Linked DNA regions of Homo sapiens. The protein of the gene in region 1 interacts with the protein of each later gene in a biochemical or structural test. Each region holds a gene or a part of one and is shown in the gene's direction. Other genes may lie near its edges.

The links. The genes of interacting proteins can lie anywhere in the genome.
Region 2: the proteins of SMCHD1 (region 1) and ERBIN interact in a test that uses a peptide from one of them, tested with the Homo sapiens proteins (one large-scale study listed by IntAct).

The regions. Positions count from the first base shown.
Region 1 is NC_000018.10:2,693,726-2,697,225, forward strand, and holds part of SMCHD1 (structural maintenance of chromosomes flexible hinge domain-containing protein 1), read left to right. Parts: intron 1-801; coding exon 802-968; intron 969-3,306; coding exon 3,307-3,397; intron 3,398-3,500. UniProt on the Homo sapiens protein: Non-canonical member of the structural maintenance of chromosomes (SMC) protein family that plays a key role in epigenetic silencing by regulating chromatin architecture.
Region 2 is NC_000005.10:66,052,075-66,055,574, forward strand, and holds part of ERBIN (erbin), read left to right. Parts: intron 1-1,331; coding exon 1,332-2,877; intron 2,878-2,984; coding exon of another isoform or gene 2,985-3,092; exon of another isoform or gene 3,093-3,500. UniProt on the Homo sapiens protein: Acts as an adapter for the receptor ERBB2, in epithelia. By binding the unphosphorylated 'Tyr-1248' of receptor ERBB2, it may contribute to stabilize this unphosphorylated state.

The DNA.
Region 1 (3,500 bases):
GGCTCAAGCGATTCTCCTGCCTCAGCCTCCCTAGTAGCTGGGTTTATAGGCGTGTACCACCACGCCTGGCTACTTTTGTATTTTAAGTAGAGATGGGGTTTCGGCTTGTTGGCCAGGCTGATCTTAAACTCCTGACCTCAGGTGATCTGCCCGCCTCAACCTCCCAAAGTGCTGGGATTACGGGAGTGAGCTACCACGCCCGGCCTGCAATTTTTTAAAACATAGATTCATACTACAGATGGAGAAGTTTGTAATTTTATCCTCAAATTCCCCTACTAACTCCCTTCCATAAGTTTTAGATATTCTCTGAAAGTGGGTTGGTGTCCAGGATGATTTTACTTTTAAGCACTATGTGTTTGGGCTTAGCTAGCTGGGTCCAGCCTGCCCTGTAGTTTTCTTGAACATGGAGGGCTGGGCATTGGTCCTGACCAAGTTAAGTGGTAGGTCTCCCAAGCAAGCGTTCATTCTACCCTAGGGGTAAGTGTCCTCAATTTTTTAAGGCATTTTAAAACTCAGTATTTGTCTTTACCTTTTCGTTTATGATTCTAAAATCGGTTTAGCATTATAAGATAGGGTGCTCTTTATGCATGCTAGTTTAGCAGTCTGTGTGAAAGTTCCCTTGTCTTCACAGTGTTGTCACATACTCAGCCAGTTTGTTGTATTGGGCCAGTTTCCTCCAAAGCTTTTCTGAAACCTATTTGTGAAACTCCAAGTAAATCACATTAAAATTTGATGCAATAGCTATTTGTATAATTATAATTTAGATGATTTAATCTGTTGTATTTCTGTTCACTCTTGTAGCCCTCTGATTCTGTTCACATTACAAATGATGATGAAAGATTTCTACATCATCTTATCATAGAGGAGAAGGAAAAAGATAGCTTTACTGCTGTGGTTATCACAGGGGTACAACCAGAACACATACAGTACTTGAAAAATTATTTCCACCTTTGGACACGACAGTTAGCGTAAGTAATTATATTTGGCTTAGGAAATGTTGCTACTTAACTTTTTTAAGGCAGAAAACATTACAGATATATTGAAGCCTCTTTGGTATCCGTTTTGCTCCTGTCTCATTTTCTTCCCTTTAGTATTATCCAGTACTCTGATATTGGTGTTAAAACAGCTCTCTATTCATTTATTCTGTAAATATTTATAGATCACCTCTAGTGTACTGAGCATTATTTGAGGCACAGGATTTTGACAATATTATAAAATTAAAAAAGAACTTCACAGTTTGTCAGATTGAGCACTATATCACTTCCATGACCCCGTTTTGTGCTTCTTTTCCATAGGACCTGTCGTAATCTTCCATACCATATATATTTATTTTTGTTGTTAAATTCACTGCTGTATCTCCAATGTCTTCTAGAAGAATACTTGCTACATGGTAGATGCTCAAATGTTTATCAAGTGAATGAATGCATCAAGCCTATTAAAATAAAAAATATACGTACATATGTGCCTATATGACATTAGTACTGAAAATAATCATTGTGTTTTTATTCCAGTAACACTTGTAGGGACTCTATATTCCATTAGACCAAATCAGAGGAATAGTTATTTAATGGCTCTAAAAAAAAATTTTTTTTTTTTTTTTTGAGACGGAGTTTCACTCTTGTTGCCCAGGCTGGAGTGCAATGGCGCACTCTTGGCTCACTGCAACCACCACCTCCTGGGTTCAAGTGATTCTCCTGCCTCAGCCTCCCGAGTAGCTGGGATTACAGGCGCGTGCCACCACACTCAACTAATTTTTGTATTTTTAGTAGAGACAGGTTTTTGCCGTGTTGGCCAGGCTGGTCTTGAACTCCTGACCTCAGGTGATCCACCCACCTCAGCCTCCCAAAGTACTGGGATTACAGGCGTGAGCCATCGCGCCCGGCCTAAAATTTTTTTTTTATAGCTATGTGATACATACGATTTACTGTATTGTTTCCCTAATTTGCATTAGTATGAATTACTGAGACTTGCAAAATGGGTACATCTGCTCAAAATTCATATTTTAAAAATGTATCTTTTTACATTTACCCAAAAGGCTATTGTTCTTGAGAGTCTCAATTTTATACGTAATTATACGCTAAGAGAATTTTAAAATTTTTTTATGGGAAAATAAATTTGGTTTTAGGAATACCTTTTTTCTTGTTGAAGTTGTTTATTATCCCTGTTACCCAAGGTATTTAAGTAGGACTTTGCAGTTTTCTTCAAGTACATATTTTATTAGCTATTTTATAGTTTATTGAAGGAACTCAGTGTACATTAACACATAATTTAAATATACTCTTGCTCTAATGAAGGATTATGAAGAAATATTGCAAATTTCTATTTCACGAATAAAGACGTGGTATTTTATAATCCTGAACAATGTTACCAAAATATAATCTTTTTTAACCTTTTCTGAAAAAATAAAGAGGTGTTATTTCCAAAATGTTGGTTTTCAGTGAGATGGTGTCAAACTTACTAGTTTTGTTTTTGGAATCTTAGGGTAAGATTGTCTCAGTGCTATAGGAGAGGAGAGATGAATGTTCTAGAACAGGGGTCCCCAACGCCCCGGTCGTGAACTGGTACCCATCTGTGGCCTTTTAGGAACCCGGCCCCACAGTGAGTGGTGGGCCCGAGTGAGCATTACCACCTGGCTCCGCCTCCTGTCAGATCACTGGCAGCACTAGATTTCTCATAGGAGCACGAACCCTAATGTGAACTGTGCATGTGAGATATTGCGTGCTCCTTATGAGACTCTAGTGCTTGTCGATCTGAGGTGGAACATTTTCATCCCAAATCACCCCCCTTCAACTCCCATCTCTGGAAAAATTGTCTTCCATGAAACTGGTTTTGGTGCCAAAAAGGTTGGGGACTGCTGTTCTGGAATGGTATTCTCTTATTGAGATTAGATACCTAATCCAGTTTACCACCGATAATTGAGTCCTTTCTGGAACGTACCTGGTAAGTAGAATTATAGACTCTTGCTGTCTAGTTTATATTTATTTGATGAATTATTCCTCTTGGAAGTGGTGTATGTGGTCTTTGAAGTTGGAAAGGTCTGGGTTGAAGCCCACGGCTCCCTAACTCTATTCTGTGATGTCAGATAACTTACATACACTTCTTGCACCCCAGGTTCTATATCTGTAAAATGAGATGCAGTAATACCTGCATCTCAATTGTTTTTACCATTAAATGGAATATGTATTTTAAAATGCTTAATAAAGTGCTTGATACCTAGTAAATAGTGTTAAAATATTTTGATAGAAGATTACATTAACTATAATTTTATGTGAATTAAAAGTATAAAATTATTCTTCTCTATTTTAGGCATATTTATCACTACTATATTCATGGCCCAAAAGGAAATGAAATACGAACATCAAAAGAAGTTGAACCTTTCAACAATATTGATATTGAAGTAAGAGAAAAATCCATCTTAAAATAATAAAAATTATGAGATATTTGTTCCAGTTCCAAATGACTCAGGATAATAAAAAACACTTGATAATTAGACAACTTCT
Region 2 (3,500 bases), on another chromosome or scaffold:
TAGTCCCAGCTACTCGAGAGGCCAAGGTGGGAGGTTAACTTGAGCTTGCGAGGTTTAGGCCTCAGTGAGTCATGATCAGGCTACTGCACTCCAGCATGGGTAACAGAATTGAGACCCGGTCTCAAAAAAAAAAAAAAAAAGATCGGGGTTACTACTAAACCAAAAGTTTAATGTGTGGATATTTTTAATAGTCATTTAGAGTTGTTCTTAAATTTCAGGCATATTTAAGTAAAATTTGTATATATTAATGCGTGTTGTTGGAAAAGGGAGGTGAATTTTATGCCTGAAAATGAGTTTAGGTACTGTGTAATTATAATCACAATCAATCATTTATTTCTATTCTTTGAATTTGAAGCTATGAGCTGCTGTTTAAAATACTAATTTTTATAACCTCCTAGATATTATCGTATTAATTTGTTGAATAATAAAATTTTATTTATTGTTGGGAAAGCGGTATGATATTTTCTAAATCCTGCTTTTAATATAATGAAATAAAGCCTAAGCAAGGAATACAGCAACACCTTTTTGTGCTGTATTTCTAGTAATGAAAGTTATCTTTTTTGTAATGGGAAGACCAGTATTAGGGAATTTTTGTGGAAACATAACTTGAATATGTATACAAGAGGACACAAATACTTAATATCACAGGTAGAAATAAAATATTTTGTATAATTTTGGAATGACACATTTAAAAGTATTTACCAAATACAGCTAGCTACTTAGAAGAGTGATTAGACTTCATTTATCTTTCTATGCCTTTTACATATTTGATGTTAAACTTTGGACAATTATTCAGTTCTTTGCTTTGTACAATTTTCTTACCTATATATTTGAATGTAATAACAACTGTGTACTTCGTTAACTATGGTTAATTTGGTTAATAATGTAAGGCTTCAAAATTAACTGTAAAAATGTCCTTTGCTCTTTACTCCACTATTCATGTTACTAGGTTTCTCTCCATATATCTGCCCTCCCTCAAGCATTTTGTTTTTTTAGCACATTCATGAAAAGATGCAGCAAACATTAAAATTTTATTCATAGTTCAGCCCTTTAAATTATTTTGTGACAAATCAGATTGAGTGTATTGATGAAAATTAATCTTGGTATTATCTATGAATTTTAATTGTATTACTTGTCTCCAACTGAATATAAAGCTCTTTTAACTATTAAGATAATATTTTAAAATTACATGCTTGATAATAAATGCCTTTTGTCTTTGACTTTTATTAACTTTTTTAACTTGTCTACCTACACAATTTATTTATTAATGTTCCCTGTTACTAAGAAAACTCGGCTTTATTATGTTTTTCATAAAATTATCTTTATTTTAGGCAAGAAGATGAAAATTTTAACAGCCTTTTACAAAATGGAGATATTTTAAACAGTTCAACAGAGGAAAAGTTCAAAGCTCATGATAAAAAAGATTTTAACTTACCTGAATATGATTTGAATGTTGAAGAGCGATTAGTTCTAATTGAGAAAAGTGTTGACTCAACAGCCACAGCTGATGACACTCACAAATTAGATCATATCAATATGAATCTTAATAAACTTATAACTAATGATACATTTCAACCAGAGATCATGGAAAGATCAAAAACACAGGATATTGTGCTTGGAACAAGCTTTTTAAGCATTAATTCTAAAGAGGAAACTGAGCACTTGGAAAATGGAAACAAGTATCCTAATTTGGAATCCGTAAATAAGGTAAATGGACATTCTGAGGAAACTTCCCAGTCTCCTAATAGGACTGAACCACATGACAGTGATTGTTCTGTTGACTTAGGTATTTCCAAAAGCACTGAAGATCTCTCCCCTCAGAAAAGTGGTCCAGTTGGATCTGTTGTGAAATCTCATAGCATAACTAATATGGAGATTGGAGGGCTAAAAATCTATGATATTCTTAGTGATAATGGACCTCAGCAGCCAAGTACAACCGTTAAAATCACATCTGCTGTTGATGGAAAAAATATAGTCAGGAGCAAGTCTGCCACACTGTTGTATGATCAACCATTGCAGGTATTTACTGGTTCTTCCTCATCTTCTGATTTAATATCAGGAACAAAGGCAATTTTCAAGTTTGATTCAAATCATAATCCCGAAGAGCCAAATATAATAAGAGGCCCCACAAGTGGCCCACAATCTGCACCTCAAATATATGGTCCTCCACAGTATAATATCCAATACAGTAGCAGTGCTGCAGTCAAAGACACTTTGTGGCACTCCAAACAAAATCCCCAAATAGACCATGCCAGTTTTCCTCCTCAGCTCCTTCCTAGATCAGAGAGCACAGAAAATCAAAGTTATGCTAAACATTCTGCCAATATGAATTTCTCTAATCATAACAATGTTCGAGCTAATACTGCATACCATTTACATCAGAGACTTGGCCCAGCAAGACATGGGGAAATGTGGGCCATCTCACCAAACGACCGACTTATTCCTGCAGTAACTCGAAGTACAATCCAGCGACAAAGTAGTGTGTCCTCCACAGCCTCTGTAAATCTTGGTGATCCAGGCTCTACAAGGCGGGCTCAGATTCCTGAAGGAGATTATTTATCATACAGAGAGTTCCACTCAGCGGGAAGAACTCCTCCAATGATGCCAGGATCACAGAGACCCCTTTCTGCACGAACATACAGCATAGATGGTCCAAATGCATCAAGACCTCAGAGTGCTCGACCCTCTATTAATGAAATACCAGAGAGAACTATGTCAGTTAGTGATTTCAATTATTCACGGACTAGTCCTTCAAAAAGACCAAATGCAAGGGTTGGTTCTGAGCATTCTTTATTAGATCCTCCAGGAAAAAGTAAAGTTCCTCGTGACTGGAGAGAACAAGTACTTCGACATATTGAAGCCAAAAAGTTAGAAAAGGTAATTGAACATGAGTTTTTCATTATTTTCTTTATGAACTTAATTATTTTCCTTAAAAATGATGAAACAAGATTCTCTGAATTACTGATTATCTCTTTATATTCTAGGTGTTTTTCTCTGGTACTGGGAATAGAGTTCCAAATTTAAACTCAGCCAGGACAATTGGGATGATAATGTGTGTTTCTATCCTCTCCTTCACTCCCCACTGTTTCTAACAAAAATGTATTAATTTTATATGTTTATGTGTCTGTCTCTTTGAGATTGTGCACACATACTAAAAATACACGTACCTCTGTTCAGCATTTTCTGAACTTTGCTATTAATAATTGTTGATTATCTAAATTTAAAAAATAGTTTACTATATAGTTAAGACAATAACAAAAAATGTATTGCAAATGTAAATATTTCATCTAATATTTTTTCCCCAGTCCACAGTATATGAACTAACATTGTCACTGACACAGATGGCTTCTGGCATGGCATTTATTCTTAACTTTTCTGAATTTCTACATTTCTGACCTACTTAAACTCAGTTAAGTGTTTCTGTGGCTCTAGTGTTGCTTAGCAATAGTTGATTAAATAACTAATGCTCGTGTTCAATTTATAATTTTATGTGTAGATGT